Linked DNA regions of Homo sapiens. The protein of the gene in region 6 interacts with the protein of the main gene of each other region in a biochemical or structural test. Each region holds a gene or a part of one and is shown on either strand. Other genes may lie near its edges.

Region 1 (3,500 bases), on a different chromosome or scaffold from region 6:
TTGAAGCCAATGATCATTTACCATTCTGAAAACCCTAAGGCCCTTAAGAATTATGTTAAATCTATTCTGCCTGTGCTCAGTAAATAAACAACAAAGCCTAAATGACAGCACGTTTGTTTACAGTATGGGTTAATGAATATTTTAAGTCCACTGATGAGACCCACTGCTCAGAAAAAAAGATTCATTTCAAAATACTACTACTCACTGACAATGCATCTTGTCACTCAAGAGCTCAGATGGAGGTACACAAGGAGATTAGTGATTTTTTTCAGGCCTGCTAATACAACATCCATTCTGTGGCCCATGGATCAAGGAAAAGTTTCAACCTTCAAGTCTTGTTATTTAAGAAACACATTTCATAAAGCTACAGCTGACATAGACAGTGATTCCCTAACAGATCTGTGAAAAGAAAATTGAAAACTGTCTTGAAATGATTCATCATTCCAGATGCCATTAAAACCATCTGTGGGCCAGGCATGGTGACTCACGCCTGTAATCCCAACACTTTGGGAGGCTGAGGTGGGAGGATCACTTGAGCCTAGGAGTTCAAGACCAGTCCAGGCAATGTATTGAGACTATCACTTAAAAGAAAAAAAAAATTGTGAAGCATGGGAGGAGGTCAAAATATCAACACTAACAGGAGTTTGAAAGAGGTTGAATCCAACCTTTATGAATGACTTTGAAGGGTACAACACTTCAGTGAAGGAAGCAACTGCATGTGTGGTAGAAATAGCAAGAGAACTAGAATTAGAAATAGAGCCTGGGCTGGCTCCCAGCACTTTGGGAGGCTAAGGTGGGAGGATTGCTTGGGCCCAGGAGTTCAAGATCAACCTGGGCAACATAGCAAGGCCTCGTCTCTACAAAAAAAAAAAAAAAATCAGCCACGCATGATGGCATGCACCTGTAGTACCAGCTACTCAGGAGGCTGAGGTGGGGTCACTTGAGCCTGGGAAGTAGAGGCTGCAGTGGGCTGTGATTACGCCACTGCACTCCAACCTGGGCAACAGAATGAGATCTTGTCTCAAAGAAAAAGAAAAAAAAAAAAAAGGAAAGAAAAAAAAAAGAAATGAAGATGGAGCCTGAAGGTGTGACTAAATTGCTGCAATCTCATGATAAAACTTGAGTAGATGAGAAGCTGCCTCTTATGCATTAGTAAAAAAAGTGGTTTCTTGAGACAACCTGCTCCTGGTGAAGATGATGTACATATTGTTCAAATGACAACAAAGAATTTAGAATACCACATAAGCTTAAGCTTAGTTGATAAAGCAGCAGCAGAATTTGGGAGGACTGACACCAATTTTGAAAGAAGTTACTGTAGGTAAAATGCTATCAAACAGCATCACATGCTAAAGAGAAATCTTTCATGAAAGAAAGTCAATTGATGTGGCAAACTTCATTGTCTTATTTTAAGAAACTGTCACAGCCACCCCAATCTTCGGCAACTACCACCCTGATTGGTCAGCAGCAGCTATCAACACTAAGGCAAGACCCTCCACCAGCTAAAAGATGACAACTAGCTGAAGGCTCAGATGACTGGTTAGTATTTTTTAGCAATAAAGTATTTTTAAATTAAGGCATATATCTTTTTTTAGACATAAGGCTATCACACACAATAAACTACTATATGTGTAAACAACTTTTATGTGCACTAGGAAATAAAATTCACGTGACTCACTTTATTGGGATATTGGCTTTACTGCAGTAGTCTGGAACCAAACCTGCAGTATCTGGGAGGTATGTCTGTACCTTAACAGTTTTTGTTGTTTTAGTGCACTTAATTGTCCATGGAGTATTTAAGTCTGAAATTTTCCATAAGAATATCTTTGCAAATTGAGAAAGAACTAGCTCAGGAAAGACAATGTTCTGTGGAAGCTGAATCTATAAGTAGGAGAAATCTCTCACACACACACTGTGTTAGAAAGATATCTAAATGGCACACTTTACAACATGTGTCTGTACTTGATGTCTGGCTCACTAGGATTATGCCTGAGTTGATAGTTTCACCTAAGGACGACAGATGGTTCAAAATAAAGGAACCATTCATTTTGTCCCAGAAACACAAGGAGTTCTTTACTCATTATTTACTCATCAATTACACGATGCAAACAAATGATTTCAACATACTAATTCTCATCCCTTTGTATATTTTTCACAACGCTTTGCACCCAGTAGGTATTCAAGGAAAAATAAGCCAAACAAATAATTTTATCCCCTTCTATTTTACAGCTTATTAATTTGGCTTCTAGGGCACCACCACTCTCTCGGTTTTTCTCCTACTGCACTGTTTGCTTCCACTCATTCTCCTTTGCTGATTTCTACTCTTCTCCCCGACCTTATACTGATCTCATGTCCCATGGTACTCACTGTCCTTGGTCCTCTTCTATTCTCTACGTACACTCACTACTTGGTAATTTTACCCAGTCTCATGACTTTCAATATCTATAAACTGATGACTATAAAATTGTTATCTCCAGCTCAGGCTTCTTAGTAATACAAATTTGTATATGCAACCTCTTACTCATTTCTAACAGACATTTCAAACTTGACATGTTCAAAACTGAATTTCTGATCTTGCCCCTAAAACCTACTCCTCCTGCAGCTTTTCCCATCTCGCTGATGGCAGCTCAAACCTCTCTGACAATAACTCCAACACTCCAGTTATTTAGGCCAAAAACCTTGAAGTCATGCTTGATTCTTCTCTTTTCCTCAAGGTCCACATCTGATCTATTAGCAAATCCTGTTGGCTAACCCTACAAAATATTTCTAAAACTTAACCACTTCTCACCACTTCCATTACTATCACTATCACTTTAGTCAGAGTGACCATCATCTCTAACCTGATTTTATGCAATAACAGCCGTTAACCTCCTGCTTTTGCCCTTAAACACCTACAGTCTATTCTCAACACAGCAGCCAGGAGACTACCCAGTAAGGTAGTCAGGTGTAGTGGCACATGCCTGTAGTTCCAGCTACTTGGGAGGTTGAAGCAGGAGAATCTGTTGAGCCCAGAAATTAGTGACCAGACTGGGCAATATAGTGAGACCCTCTTTAAAAACAAAAAGGTAGGCCAGGCGTGGTGGCTCACGCCTGTAATCCCAGCACTTTGGGAGGCCAAGGCGGGCAGATCACGAGGACAAGAGATTGAGGCCATCCTGGCTAACACGGTGAAACCCCATCTCTACTAAAAACACAAAAAATTAGCCGGGCGTGTTGGCACACACCTGTAGTCCCAGCTACTCAGGAGGCTGAGGCAGGAGAATCGCTTGATCTCAGGTGGCAGAGATTGCAGTGAGCCCAGACTGCACCACTGCACTCCAGCCTGGGTGACAGAGCAAGACTCTGTCTCAAAAAAAAAAAAAAAAAAAAAGGTTAAGTAGGTCAATATCACTCCTCTGCTTCAAAATCTTTCAGTGCTCCCCCTCACTGAAAAGTCAAATAGGATGTGCCCTATGCTATGCATCATTATCTCCACTCCTCCTTCATCTCTTACTACTCTCACA
Region 2 (3,500 bases), on a different chromosome or scaffold from region 6:
CTTGGATTTCTGAGCTGCCATTTTATTGGAGGTGCCAATTAAATAAAGGGTCATTTGGTCCCCATGACAACAGTGGAACGGTACAGCAAATTAAGAAATCTGGTGGGAGGGGAAGCCCAGAGAAGAGGGGCGAAGAGAGAAAAGAGAAGCCAGAATGGTCTCTATAGCAACGGGAGAGCAGAACCATGATGCTCCTGGGGAAGCAAGGGAAGCTGTGCGCTATTCTAAAACAGAGCAAAAACCCAGAGGGCAGGACCACAGAGGCAAAGGCACAGAAAGAGGCAGCCTGTAAAATGTTCCACCCACCAATAATTATGCCTTGGGAATTAATTATGACCCAAAAAATAAGGTAGGAAGAGTAAGGCAAGTCAATACCTATAATTCTACTCTAGAAATTGATTTCCTGTAACCTGGGGGGACAATAGTCAACCAGTATTGAAGTGGCCAGATGCAGAATGCACACTTTGGATCCCTGTTCCTGAAAGTGTAGCCTGCAGACTGGTGATGCCATCCCCGCCGCAAAGCCTGCCAAAAATGCAGAATTCCACCCTATACCTGCTGAATCAGACCTGCATTCTAACAAGATCCCCAGGTGATTCCAATCAGTTTGAGAAGCACTGATTCATCAGGATGAGAGTTGCTTGTCAAAGTCACTGCAAAGAGCATGGACATACACTGAAACAAATTTGAACACAGCCTTGAAGTGGTCCAGATGCTGCTCTGCAGTGGCCCGAGGGGTGGGGGTAGGGCAGTGTGCACATCTGTCCAGGTGCAGGCAAAAAGGGGTGTGTTTTCTAGAGAATTTTAAAAAGGTGATACGACCCACTGATGTCAGTCTGTATTTGGTACTGGTGATTCTGGCTGTTATCAGTGGTTACACCTCCCACCAGCCAGGGTGGTCCACGGACGGACCATCACATTTCCCCATTCAACAAGCGGCGCACTGTGGCAGGGAGGAAGTTCAGCTGTGCTCTAATCGGGGTCTGCCCTGCTAAGTACTTCTTCACTATGGGTGGCCACGAAAGCACTGCTTTTCTTTTCTTACTCTTCATCTTCATCAGTTACATCTCTTTTATCACCACTCGGCCTTTTAATTTTCTGGTTCTATAGAGATTACATTTATAGACATCAAAGTTCAGCTCCTCAAACAATCCATTTCCCCTTAGGAAACTGTGCAGACAGAGCTCCGTCTGTACTCCAGCAAGCTTTGCTTCCACCTTGATGCTGTGGCAGCTGCAGAGGGAGTCAGGCTGCCCTCATAGCCTCACTGCTTCCCTCCTCTGGTCCCCACGCAGATAAGGAAGGAGCGATTCGCAGGAGGGTGGGGACTCACTGGCCAGCTGGGGGCCCTGGGCAAGTCTCCTGTGCCTTTAGAGTCTCTGATGGCCCATCTGTGCACCTAGCATCTGCTGTCCCCCTTGTGGGCTGTCCTGAGGAGGAAAGGAGGTGACTCCAGGCCATGAGCTGGAGTCTTAAGGGCCTCAGGAAGCGCGGCTTGTTCCTGCCCAGGCCCCATCCCCACCTTTACTTAAGTCCTCCCCTTGTCTGAGTCTGTTCTTAGTCTGCCATGACAAAGTACCACAGACTAGGTGGCTTATAAACAACAGGCATTTATCCCTCACAGTTCTGGAGGCTGGAAGTCTGAGCTCAGCGTACCAGCACTGTCAGGTTCTGGCAAGAGCCCCTTCTGAGTTGCAGATGGCCAACTTCTAGCATCTTCACATACCAAAAGAGAGCTTGCTGGGGTCCCTTTTTTAAGGGCACTAATCCCAACCATGAGGGCTCCACCCTCCTGCTAATCACTTCCTAAAGGCTCCACCTCCAAATAACATCACATTGGGATTAGGGTTTCAATATGTATTTGGAGGGAACACAAATATTACTCAATACTTTACTTAACCCCCTATCCCCGCTCCTCCTCCCCAACCCTTCTAGACTCAGACCAACTCCCCACAAACCATCCCTAACCAGCTTCCCTCTCTCATCGATTTCTCTCTCTTGCATCTGAACTCCTATGCCGCTCAGGCAGTTTCTCAACCTCAGCACTACCTACATTTGGGGCTGGATAACTCTGTGCTGTGGGGCTGTCCTGTGCATTGTAGGATGTTTGACAGTATCCCTGGCCTCTACCCACTGGATGCTGGCAGCACCTTCTCCTCCGTGACAACCCAAACAGTCTCCATACATTTTGGGGGATGAAGATCACCCCTGGCTGAGAAGTACTGCCCCATGGTCTGGCCTTGGGCCTAGCATTTCACCTGACACCCTCCCTGGGATGACTCTGTATTGGAGGCTGTATGACCACAGACGATTACATCATCTTGCTGTGCCTCAGCTTCCTAGCTTGTACAATGGGTACAAAATAGTACCTGCCCACAGAATGCTGCCCCGAAGGCTCAGCAAGTCAGTCCACACATATTCTCAGAGCATCCAGAGCACAGACACACAGCACTGAGCACTGTGAGCCATAAGTCCTTTCACTTCTCCTCAAACCGACCAAGCTCCCTGGGGGGCAGGGACTGTGTCCACGGGGCCCCTGGGTCCCACAGCCCCTCAGCAGTTCTCATGCATGCACCCAAGGTGTTTAATAAGCAACTTGCTCACTGGCAGGAGCGACTTGTGGTCCTGCCTCCCTAGCCCCACCCCCCCGCTTGCCTCTCCATGCAATCACAGCAACACCAGACCAGCCGTTCCGGGCCAGGCTCAGACCCCATCTCTCCCTGACTCAACACCGGCCCCTGTCCATCAATTCAAGCAGAAACTTCCAAACGCCACTTCCCTTTCTGCTACCTACCTAGGTTTTATTCCTTCAAGGTCAACTTTAAAATCACATAAAATTGTCCATCTAATCACTTGTAGCCTCTCACCTTTATGTTGGCCGCAGAGCCCTTGCACGTCTCTAATTATCCTGCACATGCACACTGGCAAGCCAGCTTCCTCAGAGCGCAGCTCAGTGCCTCACAGAGGCCCAATTAAACCTTTCTGAATGAATATCCATGTTCAAAGTTGATTCTCTAATCTTACCTTTAACGTGTATTAAGCAAGAGGTAGAATTTATTTAAGTATAAGATATAAGAAAAAGAAATTAAAGGAGGCCAAAGAGGACTATTTCTTTCCAGATGTGATTATCTTATGTGAAATTAGAATTTACTCCATTTCATTAAAAACAAAAAGTCACCATCCATGTGTCCTATACACTCACCTTCACCTCCCACCCCCACCCCCTTAGCTGAGGAGGCTGGCTTTGTGATTTTTCTTTTGCTCACAATGACTATTTGCACGAATTAATCCCCTTCCTTCTCCCTCTCTCTCACACATGCACATACGCACACAGCTATGTTCCAGCTAAGTCTTTCAGGAAACCCCTACAGGACCCCAAAAAACGCTGTGGAATCTCAGTCTAGCTACAGTACCGCAGCACTTGGTGCAGAGCTACTGGGGTCTACAGATGCCATCATGGAGGAGGAACATCCTGGTCACACTGGCCATGCATTCAGCAA
Region 3 (3,500 bases), on a different chromosome or scaffold from region 6:
TCTCCCAAGGGCTTTCAAATGGGGAGCATTCAAACAATTACAGAAGCCAACATTTATTGAGCACTCACTATGTGCCAAGCCCTGTGTCATGTGGTTTACTTTCTACTTTTCCAACAACCCTAGAGAGTAGGTATCATTATTATCCCCATTTTCCGAGGGGGAAACCTGGCACAAAGAGGTTCAGCATCTTGCCCCAGAACACCCAGCTCATAAAGTGTAAAGCCTGCCTCTTCACCCAAGCCAACCTTGGGTCCAAAATCTGACTCTATGACACATCAGTAAATTGCTATTTGTGGATCATTTTATGAGCAGTACTACGGTCCTGATGACACTATATATAGCAGTAATTTTGAAACATGGCTTATAATCAGGGCACGATCGCCTTTTAATTGCACCATCATGCCCCTGTCCATAAAGAGAGCCTCGAGTCTTGTCTCATAAAGGAGTAAAGATTATCCTTATTGTAAGAAGCATAACTGTGGCCCATTAAACAGACACACAAATGCCTCCATCCACAGTAATGGTGGGGTTGATACCTTAGCCATGAGAATGTAATTATCTTATGGAACTCATCTTCATGACACTGGAGATGGTAACAGAAAAAGTCTATACACACAGCCAGAAGAACCTCTCAGTCTGTTTAGGGGTGAGAGAGTCTGCAAAGTTCCATGACACACTCAGCATGGGGCTGCCTTAGACACACAGTGGTGACTTGCTCTTTAAAGCATCTCCATTGGCCTTCTTGACTCACTGGTCTCACCTCTTCCTTGCCCTACTGGAACTTCCTGGGAGCACCTCCCAGATAAGCCCTGTGCATTCAAATCCTGACCTAGAGTTGCCTTCTAGGGATTCATGTTGGTGGGGAGCACACAGGACTGAAAGTGGACTGAGGCCAATGACTTGGCTAAGTAAGGGATGCTGTGCACAGACCTATCCCTAACTCGACAAGATCTTCATGGTGACTCTAGTAGCCTCAGCTCTCCTGTTTGGATCAGCCACCTGGTACCCCTTGTTACCGTCATTTCCCAAATCAAAGTAACCTCTGAAAATCAGGACACTCAATTAATTTTAAAGTCAAGGACCTCTTCCATGCAGGGAAACCTAAAATTGGAAATGTGACCTTATCTCTGACTCCAAGGAGACTCCAGTGGACTCTTCCCTCCCCTTCTTGACAAGAAACCAAGGACCCACATGTTCTTACTTGTAAACCCATAATACTAAGACCAACTGAAGCAGGCCAGCAATGTTCACTGACTTTAAGAATATTCCTGGATCAATCGGCTAAGCTCTATTTTAGCCCCAGCCATTGACTGTAAATGTTAAACTCTAACCAACTTTAATGTGATCCATCATCAGTCACCTAAATTTTCAGGGACTTCTATATATCTACATTTTCAGAGGTAACTGACCTCAGAAGAGATTTATTCTAGTTCTAAACTTGACTGTAAACATTTAACAAATACCCAAGCAAGTACTAGGCACCATGCACTGTTTTTGCTACTGGGGATACTGTGGGAGAACAAGACAACATTCCTGCCATCTCAGAGCTTACATTCTAGAGAAAGAGGTAAAATAAGAAATTTACTTGTGGTGAAGCGATCTACATACTATGGAGTAAAATAAAGCTGAGAGGGGGAACAGGGAATGACACGTGGCAGTGGAGTTATGGTTTTCAATAATGTGCTCACAAGAGGCCTCACTGGGCAGGTGACATTTCAGAAAGACTTGAAGCTCAAGAGATAGCAAGCCTGTAAGATGATCAGGTGGGCACTAGCAGGCAGGACAGAGAAAGAGAAGTAATATCCTTAGGACAGGTCACGGGCAGCCTTGGAAGTCACTATAAGGACTTCGGCTTTCACTCAGATACAGAGACTACAGAAATGATTAATAATGGATTATTCCATTATGTAATTACTGAGCCATAAAAAGAGAAGATTTCTATTTAATCATAAAAGACACTGCTCAAATTACATTTTCTAATTTTGCTACATGCCTTCGGAAAAGTTGACATCCAGAACACATTAGACCCTCCACAGGACACTTAACTAGAAAGCAGAGTCAATATGATAGGACCAACCTTGACATCTGTTGAAACAACAAAATGAATTCATAAGAAATACTACATCGATGCCGACCTCCATAGGGGAGAAGTCTAGCAATGCACCAGTGTGTACTAGGGATTTTTCAAGGTTACAGATCTCACATATGAGCTGCAAAAAGACAGGCAGGCATGCAGTAACCTACTTTTTTAGGATGTGAATGTCAGCCCTTAACGAATTTGACAGCCTTTATTCTCAGTGTATACAAAATCAGTATATCCTGTTACTTGTATATACAAACTCAAGGAAAGGGCCACTAACACCAGAGAGTGGTGCTTTGCATTAAATAACCCTCGTTTACAAAGCAACATCCTTCATGTAAACCCTTGTGGTAAGGAGATGTCAGAATGTTTTCTCTTATAAACCACTTAATTCCCCTTGGTGGATATCATCAATTCTGCCATCTAAAACCAGCTGGGTAATGAATGCCAAGAAACACGGTGAGCCAACTGTATGCCATTGCCACAGAAGGTCAAGTTAATCTATTTTTAAATAACACAGCCAATGACAAGGGGTGGCCACTGGAAACGATGGACAAGTGCGTTGTACGTCCTTGCTTCATTTTTTGTAAAACCTGTACAGTGTTCCACAGTGTAACCTAAAAATATCCTTCCAAGAGTGGTCTTTTGGCACCAAGAACAAAAACAGGTTGATTTTTGAAAGTTTAAGTTAAAAAAAAAAAGACATAAATACAAAGTACAATTTAAGAGCGAGAGGGCTAAAATTGGATTGTGTTCTGTAGCAAAGATCTGATTTGCTATTAGCCAAAAAAAAAAGTACACAGGGACAATGCTGCAAGAAAACGGAGGGAAAGAATCATTTTTAGGCATGAGGACACAGGTCCCACATCAACAAAAAAAATCCTCATCATCCTGCCTGCTGAACATCTGAAATTTCACGTTTAGAGGCTCACTTGTTAAACTTCAGTTAGAGTCAACAGGCAGAAATACTTGAATAGGATTCATTAATCCTTGTCAGTCATTTATAGCCCAGTATAAATTATTAGACACAGAAAGCCTGCTAATTGGAAGATCTGATTACGAGAAAGTGAAGACCTCTGGATCCTAAACAAGAAGTAAAAGACAAATCGAGAGAAAGGGAGGAAAGATGTTGCAAGTGGCCTAGTTGCACTTACCTTCCGAAACAATGGAATAGTCATTCAGGCATCCAACCAATTTTAGTGAGCACCTATTATTTGCTGGGTCTTTTTTTTGAGATGAGTCTCACTCTGTCACCCAGGCTGGAGTGCAGTGGCGCGATCTCAGCTCACTGCAACCTCAGCCTCCCGGGTTCAAGCAATTCTCTGCCTCAGCCTCCCTAGTGGCTGGGATTACAGGCGCCCACCACCACGCCCGGCTAATTTTTTTGTTTTTTTTTTTTTTTTAGTAGAGACAGGGTTTC
Region 4 (3,500 bases), on a different chromosome or scaffold from region 6:
ATCGTTCTCTCCAGGATGCCCTGTGATCTGCTTTTGAGCAAACCCAAAGGAACCTCAAACATCCATTCCTTTCACTTCTGTGCAGTATCAACACTGTTAACCATGGTATGTTTGTTAGAACTCCATGCATTTTCCTTTATACCTTTCCCCTACACTTTCTACGACTCTTTTATGACCTTCTTTTCTCTTATTTTTTTCTTACTTTTGAAAGATATTTATGTCTGTAAACAATTGTTTTTCTTTTATTCTCTCAAATAGCTAATAAATTTTCATAGCTTTAGCAGTAATCTCCACTTCGGTAGCTCTGAGTTAGATAGGTCAGGTTTTACCCTCTTTCTAAAATTAATGGGTTCTTCACCTGCATTTGGTTGTTATGTCCTCTCATTATCCATTTGACATGTCCCATGTCAGATATCACATCTTTCCTTCCAAAGAAGCGTATTTCACACTTACATATGTGAGCATTTACCTAGTACACAAAAACACTATCTCATTTGGCCTCCTCCTGATTCTTGTTTTATTTGATAGCGGCATCACTAACATCTAGTCATTTAGTTTTAATAGGCTAATTTCTAACCTTCACCCAATTAGGTCCAGCTCTCATCATCTCAAGTCTGAATTCTGCAATAGAATCAACTCTGGTCCACCATGGTTCCCTGAAGCTTGTAAAATATGACTTTCAACATGTGATTATGCTGTCCAAAAACCTCTCTGTTTGTATAAGATTAAGATCAAGATAACACATGAACCCTTCAAGATTCTTGAGAATCTAAACGCCTCCAGTTACTTAGTTAGTAAAACTAAAGTCAATGAAATTCAGCTGTTCTGTTTGTTGTTGTTGTTGTTGTTTATTTGTTTTTTTATTTATTTACTGCAATCTAAAGCAAGTCAAGCCTATAATAGGTGTTATAAGAAGAGAGGCAGTTTTTCTTCCTAAACCACTTATGAATAGAAAAGCATTAAATATTGATCCTAAATCTCAATTTTGACTTAATCTATAGAGAAGCATTTAACTTTCCTGGAGCTTGATTGTCCCATTTGCAAAACAGGAATGAAAAAGTCAGCTTCCTAGTCCTGCTGTGAGAATCACATGAGATTCCCTAAAACAGGACTCTAACAATCATGTATAACACATAGAATGTGAGAAAATAGTATTACGAACGGAAACTAAAGTGTAGGGTTACATTTTCCCAAATGCATTTATTATGCCCTATGAAGACTTTATACTGAAACTTCTAGTTCCAACTTCAAGGAGATTTCTTGGAAAAGAACACAATATGGAAAATAAAAGCAAATGACTTAGGTAGATAATGGACATATTTTAGTTTTCTCTAATCGCTTAAAAGGATTCTTAAGTTGAGAAAAAGATGTGTTTGAAGAGAAAAATAAAGTTAATTTATGAAGTTAATGAATTGGACAAACTACCACAATCTGACTTACTTTGACTCTAAGTGTGCGCTATTGTATTACTCTTGATTGGCTCATCTATAATAATGGTGTAAAATGTACACAAGTAGATTAATCTACTTTCGGGAGTTTTACTTCTTCAAGATTAAAACCAGACCAGGAAAACAAAAGGGAAATAGTCTAGCTAAGCTGGAACAGGCTCCACCATGTGTTAAATAAGGAAATATCATTTAAAACTACTGAAAAAAGTCACCAAATATAGAAAAAATAACTGTTCTGGAATAACTATTTTTTTATCCCCAATGATTTTTTAATCCACTTGTGTGTCCTTTTCATATTATTCATTTGTTAATAATATAGTAAAAGGACACCCACAAAACTTTGATATGTTAATTACATTTAAAGTCAAACATTTCATCTTAAGACATTCTTTCCTTAGGAAAAAAAAGCTTTTAGAGAAACAACAAGCCAATGAGCCCACTTTTGCTGAGTATTCCCTCAGCAGTAGATAAATTCAGTGACTTAGAAATCTTGGGTAGATTCTTCACTAGCATTGTAGAGGACAAGTGTTGTTCTTTTCTATCCTTTAATGTAGTCTCCCCTTTCACTGAAAACTGCACTATGCTAGTCATTTGTGTTCTGGGAAGAGGGAATATTTGCAGATATTAGTCAATAACTAATACCCCTCAATCAGTGTGGTTTTGTAAAGCCCATCCTACTTCAAGATCCAGCCCAATATGTAATATTCCCTTGGTCAATCCCAGTACATCTACTGGAACTATTGAGGAAGTGAACTGGATTTGGGAAGGAAACACTGTAGAACTATAACTGGTAAGGAGGTGAGTAAGACAGAGAAAGAGATGAAGAAGAGAGGGGGAGAAAAGAGACAGACAGAAACAGAAACATAGACAGGAGTGAGGGAGAAAGACAGTGAGAACAGAGAAAGAGGCAAATGTTATCACGTAGGCAAACCGTACTTTGGAATGAAGACAACACTGAAGAATGCGGATAGTATTTGAACACTTTAATCAAGCCATACCTGCTATAATCTGCTACTGCATAAGCCAGTAATTCTCTTTTGCAAATATATTTTTTATTTAGTTGCTTATTTGGATTAAGCCACTTTAAGCTGGGATTTTGTCACTTCTAGCAAAAAAAGAAATTAAAATATACAAATACCAATTAGGCAAAATAAGCTCCTTTTTTTCCATCAATAACTGCAGAATTGTTTTTCCCTTTGGCACAGTCACTATTAACAAGGATTAGAAAAGAAGAAATTACAAAAAAAAATTGCCATATATCAAACCAAAGCATAATCTTATCCATCCCTGTGTTTGTGCGGTTGTGTGGGTGTGTGGACTTACATCACCGAACATACAATAAGACATCTGCCTCCAATTTGTGAAATCCAACAGAATATTCTATAGAGTGTGTTATAATTTGCTGATGAAATGTAAAAAATAACTTTCTAAAGAAATTATCTGTTTTTACACATATGAGTAGGCACAAAAGTAGAAAATTTGTATTCTGGGAAGAAGGGATATTTGCAGATATTAGTCAATAACTAATAATCTTTTCTTAGTCTCACTGTTAATCAAGGTTATTATCTGGGTTATTGTAGCTGTTGCATGTGTATGAGGGGCAAAAACAGTAGCTGGAAAAGATGCTGGAATAAAACATATTATGTAATATTATTGACCTATCTTCATTCCTATTTGTTCTATGAGTTAATTTTTCCCCACAAAACTTTTGCCCATTCAAAAACATGAAGTATCTATTTTATCTCAGCCACTCATTATTTTTTAGGTTTATTTATTTTAAAATTGTAAAAACATATTAAGATGAACCTTTTCATCAAGTCGTGGTTCATTGTCTCATTTCTAGATAAAAACAAAAAGGTCTGGAAAAAATCTGACTGAATATCTCAGTTTAGGGTTTCTATTAAATGTCATTGAAATGGGAAACGAAAAGGTTCGGCAGCTATGTGTGGAATCTAGCATGTAGTCTGTTTCGCTACATGCAAAATTTTAACAATGAAATTAGGTAAAGCAAAAAGTAGATTTCACACAAAATTCTCTATTTTCAGTTCTCAC
Region 5 (3,500 bases), on a different chromosome or scaffold from region 6:
CACTGCTCTGCCGGGACAGTGTGGGTCTCCGATCCTCCGGGGTAGAATAGCCACCATAGGCCACATGCCGGTCCAAGCAGGGGCTGCCGGGAACCACAGATCCAGACCCTCCGAGGTGACGGCCCAGGCTGGGGCTTCCAGGGCTGGCTATTGCATTGCTATGAAGACCGGAGGCCAGGTTGCCTTGGTGAGCCCCAGGGTGCCGGCCCAGGCTGGGACTCCCCGGGGTGGTGGCCACTTTGTTGTGGAGGCCAGAAACCTGGTAGACCCCTGCTGGGTGCCGACACAGGCTGGGGCTCCCCGGGGTGGTCGCTGCACTGCTCTGGGGGCTGGAGACAGTGCTACCATGGAAGCCAGTGCCTGGTGGACCCATCATCTGGTGATGGCTCAAACTGGGACTGCTGGGGGCAGCCATGCTGGGATTGATGGCCCGCCAGCCGAAGCCAGGACTAGGGGGAGTGTTGGTGCCCACTGTTCTGTGGCGCGCCTGAGGGCTCCCAGGCACCGTGTGGACGCCAGCCACACTGAACTGAGCTCGAGCCTGGCTTTCCGGAGAGGAGCTGAAATGCTGAAGTGAGTAGTCGGGGCTGCTGTAGCTACTGCCCACAGTCGGGAGAGGAGAAGAGCTCTGGTAGTTTCTCTGGGCAGACGGGCTGGGCTGTCCCAGGCTGCCTGAGCGGAAGCCAGACTCCAACAGAGGCTGGGTGGGCGTCCGGGGACCCTGGTCACTGCTCTCTCCCGACGGGAAACTCCCCACTGAAGTGCTGCAGAGAGATGGCAGGTTGCGATGTCAGTGGACAGAACTGAATGAAGGGTGGATTTACAGCAGGCTGTCTGCCCTCCCTCCAACCATGAACAACAGTAAGAATGGTCCCACTGGCAGTGCGGAAGGACATCAGGGTTTTATACGTTACCTTACAGAACCATCAGAAGAAGAAACTGAGGCTCAGGGAGGTTAAGCAGTAGGCTTAGTACCACACTGCTTATAAAAGACCAGGGTTTCAACTTAGCTGTGTCTGATTCCAAAGCCCACGTCTTCCCCACTGCACCATGCTCACTCCTGAGCCATGTCAAAGTGAAGAGCCCTCTCCTATCGAAACTGGAGGTGGCTGTCATGTTATAGCCTCCAGCATCACAGAAATTCCTAATGGAGTTTCCTGGCTCCTGTTCCTACTGGGAGTAGCCCTGTCTTGACTCAGTTTCCTCAAGTGTGATATCATCATCCTTAAACATTGACAGAGAGTGCTAGAATTGGGCTTTCACTCCTAGATGGCTCCAAAAAAGCAAAGACAAGGAATCACAGGGGAAGGTTTCACATCAGGGGATTTGAGGTCATTGTAAGGTCTGCTCTCCAGCCACTGGGGATGTGGCCACCAATGGAGAAAGCTGTCTTGCATGGTAATGAGGCTCCTGTCATTAGGAGCATTTAAGCAGAGGCTGACAGACCTATTGGCCTGAATGCTGTAGAGGGAATTTCCTGCATTGGGAGGTTAGATGAGATGAGCTCAGAGGTCACTACCAATTCTGACTCTGAAACAACTCAGTTCAGAGGAGACTATACCTGGGGTAATTGCCACAGTCAAAGGTTCCCTTGTAAAGTTAAGTCTAGGTCTGCATGGAGTGACAGATGAAAGCACAGCAGTACAATGTGATGGCCAGTGAGTTTTTTTGCTTATTAAAGTTTTTCCATGTGGAAAATGACAGGACTGGATTAGGTGACCCTGACTCCTTCTAGACCCAAATTTCTATCCAACTATGGTGAGAGAAACAAAGGTTGACAGGGGCCTTACATAAACTAGTATGTAGGGAGGGAGCAGGCAGGCTGTGCACCAGGAACCCCCCATGGGGAGAGGTCCTTACTTAGCCAATGGGCCAAAACCTGGAGCTGCAGGCTGGAAGGATCTTGTTGTGGGCTGGCCCTCCCTGGGCCAGGCTGGATAAGCTCAGGTTCACGGGGTGATATGAGGTTTTGGTTGGGGGTGTGCTCTTGGGCCAGGCAAGAGCCAAGGGCAAGGAGAAGGTCAGGGGCCAGGCTAGGGCAAAGTCTACCTTGCATCCCAGAAGGGGCCAAAGCAGAAGGCCACCTCCTGGTATAATCCAGAATAAACTGGATTCTGAGGAGTGGGAGACAGAGCCAGGCTGAGCAGGGTGAGAGAAGGAGACACTAAAATGGAGTTCTGGAAGGCTAATCCCAGGGGAGAAAGGCTAGCTTCCTGGAAAGGGCCAACACTTCAGCAGGAGGGATTTGAGTGAGAAACAATGAACAACTTCCTAATGCCAGGGCTCACTGAACATCAACAATGGGTGGCTGGGACAACTTAGGAAAATCCCCTTTCCTTTAAAATAGGAAATGCAACCCTCGGCCAGAGTCAGGCCTCCTGAGCAACGCAGGCTGCTGCCTGTTAAGAGGCTGGGGAAGGGGAATGCTTGGCTTAGAATCCAGAAGACAGTTGCCTCTGCTCATCTGCTCCCCTAGTCATCCCATGGTGCCCCCACTTGCAGGGGAGGCTCAGCATTGAGCCAATGTAGACTGTGCAGCAAACTGGACCCACTGGGCCTGGCAGGGGAATTTGCAGGCTCTGTGACATCCCAGGCTAGGGAGGGCAGTGGGCACGGCGAAGAAGGGATGGTCAGGGCAGAGTCTCCCCTCCTGGGGGCGACACCTCCTAGGTCCTCCTCCTTTGCCTGGCACTCGATGCCTTGCCTGAGCTGATTGCAACCCTCCTTTCCTATGCCGTCATCCCATCTCTTTGTCCCCTCCACCTTCACCCCCACTACCCCAGTCAAGCAGCTCCTTGCTGCACCCCTCCACTAAGCCTGTCAGCAGGGACTGTCACCCACCTCTGGGCTTTCATCTCTGTGTGATGCACTCAGAAATATGGATGCCAGCCATCCATCCACCCAGGCATCCCCTAATGGCAGGCCACATGCCCTCAGCCTCACACTCCCAACATGGCCACAGCCCAGTCCTCTGTCCCTGCTGGGCTGTCCTTCTGGAATGCCCTGTCTCTCTTTCTTCATCTTTCAACATCCTGCTACTTCCTCTACACCCTTCACAAATGCCTCCAGCCCTCAGAAATCCTCGCTGCATCCCTAGCCAGAAATAATGGCCCCTTGTTCTGAGCTCCAAGCCCTTCACTCATGTGTGGGCTTTGGGCCCATCTGACTCTCATCCTGTGCAGGGAGGGCGCCATGATGCAGGTCTGGGGCAGAGGATAGAGATGCGGGCTCTGGAATCACACGCTTCCACCTGAATCTGATTTCTGCCACTGCTTAGCTGTGGCACCTTTATGCCTCAGGTTCCTCTTCTGAAAAGTGGGAACAATAATAGTGCTCACCTCCTAGGATTGCTGCGAGGATTAAATAACTGCATAAAGCACTTAGCAAAGTGCCAGGTACCTAGGATGAGCCCACTACATAAGTCATTACTGTTGGTAGATTTTCAACTTGGGGAAGGACTTTGCCACATTCACCGTGGTACCCTTCACTCCTTCCAGCAC
Region 6 (3,500 bases):
AGAAGAGCTTCCAAGACGTGTTATGCAGGAGGCAGAGATCGTTAACATATAGTGACTGATGGAGGAAGGTTTAAAAAAAAATCAAGTTGGTTCAGATAAACACCAATAATTTGGATGATTTTCTGAACCATCTGGACCTCTTCAATCTGCAACATTTGGCTGGAGACTCTTCAAGATTTCTAGTACTTCCTGCTTCTGATTAGCATAGAAACACCATGACAACAATCTCCTTCAGAGTGTGCTGGTGGTTCCAATCCCATATGGGATCCCAAAGCACAAAGAACATCACACAGGATTGAACAATTTAGGCCATTATATCAGAAAGTTAAAGGATATATATAGGGCCAAGGTTTCGGAAAGAAGCAAAATGGCTCATTTCTTCATATAATGAGCACATGCCCAGGAGAAACTAACAAAAAGTGGTTTTGTACAGTTTCTACTACCACTTTAAACTACTCAAGTTTATAGGATTAAAAAAAAATAAAAAGTTTCACCTGGGGTTTTAAACTTTAGCCAGAGGTACAGAAAATGGCTTTAAGGGGTAATTGCCCATCAATAATATTTACTGAGGTCTCCTTGAGGACCTGGTGTTAAGAGTTCAGGAGGCAATGTCTTGCCATTGCAAGATGCAGTGGATATAAAGTGCATGAAAAGGATAGGAGAAATCTACCACACAACTGCAGCAATATACAGTATAGGGGACTGGGCAAAATAACCATGACTTCTGTTGGACTGGGTACATCTAGGAAGTCTTCTCAAATGGTGGCCCTTAAGAGCATTTCCAAAGAAAGAATAGGCAAGATATGAGAAGAATTCTTTTCTGGTTGTAAGTCAAACTCAAAGCTCTTTATACATGATTCAAATTCAGAATGGCATCAATGATGAAAGAGATGAGAATAATGTCCAGAATTTTTAAAAAATGTGCTGGAGTAGTTATGTCTTTTAATAGCATGATGAAATAAAAAGGGCAAGAGGCAAGGTATACAGGAATAATCCAGAGGTCGATGGCAAGAAGCCTACATGTGGAGATATGTTCAGAGCTCTTTGTCATTCTGCTAAAGGTTTTAAAGGGACTTTACTGTGGCAACTTGAGAGGCTTTAGCATTTTCCCTATAAACAGTATCTCACTGGAAACATGCATGTAGTACCAAGCTCAATAGTATAAATGGAAATACATGCAGGACAGAACCGTAAGAGAAACAGATATAGAATGCATTCAGTTGCATGGAACTAAAGTGTAGAAGAAAACTGAAAATACATTTTTAAAAAATCAGCAAAAATCTAGGTTTGAATCTTTAAAAACACAATTTAACTTTCTAAACTGTTAATCACATTTAAATGATTTAATAATTTTGATTTCATACCTCAGAGTACCTCAGTTCATTTTTTAAAGAATCAGCCTTGATTGCAAACCCTTATGACCCCATGAACTGCCTGTCAACAGCTAACTATTTATGTAAATCAGTCTTACCAGGAAGACTCCTTTGAATGCAGAAGATTCTTATAAAGTGCAGCTTCTGCATGATCTTCCTGCTTTGAACAAATAAATGAATCACGTTTTCTTCTCAAAAAATTCAAAAGATCACCATAGCAACAATATTCTGTAATGACCAGGGTGGGCCCTAAAAGCACATAAGAAAAGGTTAGAAAGAAGGTGAGATATATAGATTAATTCTGCCTCCCATAAAAATACCCAAGGGTGGTCATGGCCATTAATATTCAGCTTCAGTGGATCAGACTACTTAGTCCCAATACAATCCCATATATTAACACTGCTTATCAAAAAAGCAGCCTTATGTGGAGTAACATAAAACAAGCAAGCCTCTTTTAACCTGAATTTCTAAGTGACATTAGTATTTGGAGCCAAGCATGACTGCTGGTTTTACAGAGAGAAGTTACTGCTTTCAAAGATTCTACTATTATCAAGCTTCCTACGTGAATCCTCTGGTTCACTTCTGTTTACAGCAGGGCTTCACACACTCTCTGTAACGTTATTATGGAAATAATGAAGGCACAAACTGTGGCATAGTGGGAAAATCAGCCACAAGGAGCAGCCAGCTGGGACAAGACTGGAAAGTGAGTGAAAACCTAAAATGACCTGTGTTCTGAGCGCTACTAGTTGAAAAATTTTTTGGTGCTATGAATGTTTAAACTGTAGTTTAGAAGTAACAGGCAACTAATTAACTTGGGTAAGAAATTTTCTCATGAACAATTCATGATGTGGTGAAGCAACATTTATGGGGATTATTGGAAGACATGATATAAGGCTGTCAACTTTATCGTGGATCTCCAGAAACAGCTCATTTTACACATCTTTGTTTCTTTCAACTGAAATACTTTCTGCAAACATCACAGACATCCTTGATGGGAACTTCAACTAAGGCTTCAAATTGGAAACTTATTTTTAGAGAAGTGAAATGTTTGCCTCATTTGGTGTATATTTGAGAACCAGTAGGCTTAGGCGCCTGTTTTAAATTGTAGTATGCAAATTAATATTAACCCTTTCAGTGGCTACATATGATCAAGAAATGTATAAAGCTTACAAGATAACAGAAGCCTTCTGGTCGGGATGAGATATTCAAGAGGCTGATGTCGTTGATGTTACAAATACGACAATAACTAGGGTATGTCCTGGGCTGTTCTACCCCATAATGATAAAATTAAAATCTGCATTCTTAAGAACAATGAGGAAAACAAAATCTAGCAAGAGAGAACAACAGTCTGGGTAAAAAAATCTTCCAAGCAGTTTATAATCTAGCATTGCCAAAATCATATTAAAATGTCATGTTTTGATAACCTGACAGACAATAAAAGGCAGCTTGGACACGGCTTTACCTCCAATGGTGCAGGCTCCAAGTAGATTCACAATATTCATGTGATTACCAAGGTAACTCAGGACTTTGAGTTCAGACATGAGGGCTTCCCGTTCTGTCAAATGGGCACTCGCTAAAATTGGAAACATGCATTTTAGCAAAAAGCACAACTGGCAAACTGATGTCAAGCGCATGCAGTACCATACAGGAACTTACGCTTGAGCATCTTTACAGCGACAGTCATGGCCGCATCTGACTTAATTAAGCCATAAGCAGTTGCCTCAACAACCTTCCCGAAAGCTCCAGCACCCAGGGTTTTCCCTGTAGGAAGGAAGACAACAAGGTAAGTGGTGATGGTGCTGGTGGTGGAATTGAAGGACCATTTGTGCAGTTTCAAAATCAATAAAGGAATTAAAAACAATGTTGTCCAGAGACATTTTCCTACGATGTTCTCTATGGCAAACCTATCAAAAGGGGCGCAATTTCACAGAAAACTCATTGTTTCAGGTGGAACAAAACAAAGGAAGCCACTGGAGTTCCTTAAAGTCACTGTTATGTGTACCCAAAAAGGTGACATGGAAAGCCCCTGTTTCATACTGACCAAAACTCAGCCTGTTTCTGGGAAACTCCCATTTGTGATCATAAGGAAGTTGTGTTGGGTCTATGTAAACATAATTGTTTCCATTT
Region 7 (3,500 bases), on a different chromosome or scaffold from region 6:
TAAAAGGAGACTAAAATCTCACAAATATCCCTTTATCTGCAGTTCTCTATTTCCCTCCAATCCAGGGCTGGCAGACCTGGCCCAGACACCTATCCAGGGCTGATATTCAGTGGATTGGGTGGGGAGGGGAAAGTTGGTGGGGGAGGCAATTTAGCAGGCAGAGGCCCTGGCCATGACTCTCCCATCAACCTGTGGACTCCTCACTTAGTTTCCTTATACCAGCTGCAACAGGGCTCCAGCTGGCATCAAAGTGCTGTGGTAGCTCTTGCCATACTCTGGCACAGGTGTGACCTTCACTGAGATGATTCCCAAGTGCTCAGAAGAGTTTTCAAACTGATTCTACCAGGGAAGTTGAAAGATGTTTCCTCACTCTTACCAGCTCTCAGAAGCCTTGGGGGACTTGAAACAGACCAGACACAGGCATCGCCTGCCTCCGGCCTCCCTGTTGGGGGATGTAATACTCAGCACCCCAGCTTGGCTATCATCTCAACTGCATTCTGCAGCCAGATTCCTCATTGCTCACTCTTTCAGGTCATGGTACTGAAGGCCCCTGTGCGCATCTACTTTACTTGGAAAGGATAACTGATTATAATGCCCAATGTTATCTTAGCTCCAGAAACTCTGCCACCTTAAGGTCCTGAGGGCATGAGGCAAAGAAAGTGTAAGTATTGAGGCTAAGAGGAAGGAGCGAGTGAGACAAAAACAAGTCAAGAAAATCTACTTGGTGGTTTATCAGCCACACCGATGCCTTGAGAGCCTTTTGGATTTGACCCTCCTCTCTATGCCCACTGCCACCACCCTTATCACCTCTCACTTAGATTGCTGTAGTATCTTATAGGCTGGTCTCAAGTCTCTCCCTATTCCAATCAATTCTGCTTCCAACTGCATAGCTAACCATCCTGAATCACTATGCATAATTGTCCGACAGCCCCCAAGGTTTACCCAAGTCCAAACTTCTTCTGACATCAGAGACTCTTCAAATCTGGGAGTCCCATACCCAGCCAATCATTTTTTCCCCACTGTGCCTGCATATACACCCTCTCCTCTAGTCAGACTTCTTTCTGACCCTTTCTTGATAACACCCTGACCATTTCCATCTCCAGCCTTTTCCCTATGCTGTGCCTCCCCCTCAGAAGCCTGTTCCTTTTCTAGTCAACAATCTCAATCTCACATGTTACTCAAAACATAACGCAGGTTCAACTTCTTCTGGGAAGACTTCTCCCCTCATTCCAGCCCACACTCTCATTCTCTCTGTGCTTTGAACCCCTACAGTGCTTACTGTTTAGAGCAAAAAAATGTGGCACATAATTGTTTTCCATCTTGTATTATTCTTAGTTACTTCATATGAATGAGTATTATTTTTCTGTTAAATTACGGATTTCCAGAGAGCAGGGCCTTTGCTTTCCCCTTCTCACCATAACATTAGTACAGGGCTAGATCCTGGAGTGGTCAATAGACTTCTCTTCCCATGCCTTAACTCCAGTATGAAGGAAGGATGAGATAAGTGAAGCCCGCTAAGGATCTCCGCTGTTCATTCCCTCACCTTTCTCAAAAGATGTTCCAGACGGCAGAGGAGCTGAGGCTGCCGAGTGAGACATAGGCAGCCAATCAGCTGTCAGATCCTAGCTTTCAGAACACTCCCACCTCCTAAGGTTTTCTGGGCAATCAATAACGCTACTTAAGTGATCAATCTGAGGCACAATGGGCTGTAGGGGCCAGTGTTTGATTAACTTGAGAGAATAAATGTACGCTGGAAGAGAAAGAGCAGGGAGGGGGGAGCAGAAGAAAAAGCAAGAAGAAAGATGAGCTAGGGGAAGGAAGAGAGAGAAAAGCCTTTATGAAGGAGGGTATGATGGGATGGAGCTGAGAGTAGTTCTCACCTAATCCAATTCAACGAGTTAAGCAAGTTCCTACTGAGGTGTCGAAATAATCTTGGGGCTTTGTCAGAGTCCAGTGAATATCCCAGGGCTTTTAGGCAATTTTTGACTTTGGCAAGAACACTGTTGCCATGGTCCACTGAGGGTCCACACAGCCTCCATATTGGGTGGAAGAGTGGGTGTGGGATAGAGACTTCAGCCAATATCAAGGAAAGACATGGATCTTGAGCTATGCTCATTGGCTGTGTCTAGAGAAATCCCAGGTTCTGGCATCCTACACTCTCCTACCCAAGCCTGATGACTCAGAAACCCATGATGATATGGGACAGTAGGCTCATCTGCAAGGGAGATATCAGCATTACCTTCTCTCTATCCAGAATTGTATATACTATCCTCCCTCTCAAGGCCCTGGAGCTGGAAATTTAACTATTTGCAGTTAACAAAAAATACGGAGTCCCTTTCCAAATGTTTTCCAAACATTATCAAATGTTTAGCTATACCACGAATCAAATTTTTTTCTGGGAAAGATAGTATTATCTGGAAAAAAAAAACAGAGCAGATGGCCTCTTACTGTGAGAAAGTGAGAAAGTTCCTCCTTTAATCTAACCATGATACCTGCTGCTCTCATTAAAAACTCATCCTTCTCATAGGATGACATTGGTACCCTCCTGGTTATGCAGGCTCAAAGCCTTAGAATCATCTTTGACTCTTCCTTCTTCCTCACCCCACGCATTCAATTGGTAGGTAAATCAGGTTTCCTCTACCTCCAAATACATTCACCCATCTTCTTTCTGTCCCCAACCAGCTATGGTAACAACCGGCTAACTGGTCTTCCTGCCTCCAGAATGATCTTGTTTTAATCATTATGCCAAAGCGAGAAAAAAAGAAAAATGAGCTTGAATCTAATCAAGCCCAGAGCTAACTTCCATTTATAGAAAATATAGGGGATAGGTGAACAAGCTAACTGGCAATAAGAGGACAAACCAGAATGTGGGAATTGTGCAGAGCAAACAACCTGATTTCTGTGACAAGTCAAAGAGAGAGGGCTGTTGAAAGGGCCTTTAGAGACATAACAACCAAATGTCACGTGTGGAACTTTTTTGGAACGTCCGTCAAACAAGCCAACTGTAAAACATGTTTTGAGACAATTGAGGGCATATGATTATGGACAGGGTAATGGATAATACAAAGGCATTATTGTTACTTTTGTTAGGTGTATTAGCAGTTCTGTAGTTATGTTAGAAAATGTCCAGTTTTTAAGAAATGCATAGAGAAATATTAGGAATAAAATGATGTGATCGATGTTTGGCATGATAGGTGAAGCAAACATGGCAAAGTCCTGATAACTAGTTAATGTGGATAATGAGTATGTGGGGGTTACTATACTATTTTCTCTAATTTTTTTGAGGTTGAAAATATTTATAAGAAAAAGTAAAGACAGGCTGGGCACAGTGGCTCATGCCTGTCATCCCAGTGCTTTGGGAGGCTGAAGTGGGAGGATTGCTTGAGCCCAGGAATTGGAGACCAGGTTAGGCAACACAACAAGACCCTGTCTCTATGAAACACTAAAAATTAGCTAGCAACTCGAGAGGCTAAGGTGGGAGGATCACTTGAGCCCAGGAG

The links.
Region 1: the proteins of KIT (region 6) and RAPGEF6 interact in a test that uses a peptide from one of them, tested with the Homo sapiens proteins (one large-scale study listed by IntAct).
Region 2: the proteins of KIT (region 6) and APBA1 interact in a test that uses a peptide from one of them, tested with the Homo sapiens proteins (one large-scale study listed by IntAct).
Region 3: the proteins of KIT (region 6) and MAGI1 interact in a test that uses a peptide from one of them, tested with the Homo sapiens proteins (one large-scale study listed by IntAct).
Region 4: the proteins of KIT (region 6) and SNTG1 interact in a test that uses a peptide from one of them, tested with the Homo sapiens proteins (one large-scale study listed by IntAct).
Region 5: the proteins of KIT (region 6) and TNS1 form a complex in vitro, tested with the Homo sapiens proteins (one large-scale study listed by BioGRID and IntAct).
Region 7: the proteins of KIT (region 6) and FRMPD3 interact in a test that uses a peptide from one of them, tested with the Homo sapiens proteins (one large-scale study listed by IntAct).

Annotation. Positions count from the first base shown.
Region 1 is NC_000005.10:131,628,730-131,632,229, forward strand, and holds part of RAPGEF6 (rap guanine nucleotide exchange factor 6), read right to left. Parts: intron 1-3,500. UniProt on the Homo sapiens protein: Guanine nucleotide exchange factor (GEF) for Rap1A, Rap2A and M-Ras GTPases. Does not interact with cAMP.
Region 2 is NC_000009.12:69,445,372-69,448,871, forward strand, and holds part of APBA1 (amyloid-beta A4 precursor protein-binding family A member 1), read right to left. Parts: intron 1-3,500. UniProt on the Homo sapiens protein: Putative function in synaptic vesicle exocytosis by binding to Munc18-1, an essential component of the synaptic vesicle exocytotic machinery. May modulate processing of the amyloid-beta precursor protein (APP) and hence formation of APP-beta.
Region 3 is NC_000003.12:66,028,919-66,032,418, forward strand, and holds part of MAGI1 (membrane-associated guanylate kinase, WW and PDZ domain-containing protein 1), read right to left. Parts: intron 1-3,500. UniProt on the Homo sapiens protein: Plays a role in coupling actin fibers to cell junctions in endothelial cells, via its interaction with AMOTL2 and CDH5. May regulate acid-induced ASIC3 currents by modulating its expression at the cell surface.
Region 4 is NC_000008.11:49,917,907-49,921,406, reverse strand, and holds part of SNTG1 (gamma-1-syntrophin), read right to left. Parts: intron 1-3,500. UniProt on the Homo sapiens protein: Adapter protein that binds to and probably organizes the subcellular localization of a variety of proteins. May link various receptors to the actin cytoskeleton and the dystrophin glycoprotein complex.
Region 5 is NC_000002.12:217,817,996-217,821,495, forward strand, and holds part of TNS1 (tensin-1), read right to left. Parts: intron 765-3,500; coding exon 1-764.
Region 6 is NC_000004.12:54,727,457-54,730,956, reverse strand, and holds part of KIT (mast/stem cell growth factor receptor Kit isoform 1 precursor), read right to left. Parts: coding exon 3,415-3,500; intron 3,135-3,414; coding exon 3,030-3,134; intron 2,947-3,029; coding exon 2,836-2,946; intron 1,623-2,835; coding exon 1,472-1,622; intron 1-1,471. UniProt on the Homo sapiens protein: Tyrosine-protein kinase that acts as a cell-surface receptor for the cytokine KITLG/SCF and plays an essential role in the regulation of cell survival and proliferation, hematopoiesis, stem cell maintenance, gametogenesis, mast cell development, migration and function, and in melanogenesis.
Region 7 is NC_000023.11:107,456,152-107,459,651, reverse strand, and holds part of FRMPD3 (FERM and PDZ domain-containing protein 3), read right to left. Parts: intron 1-3,500.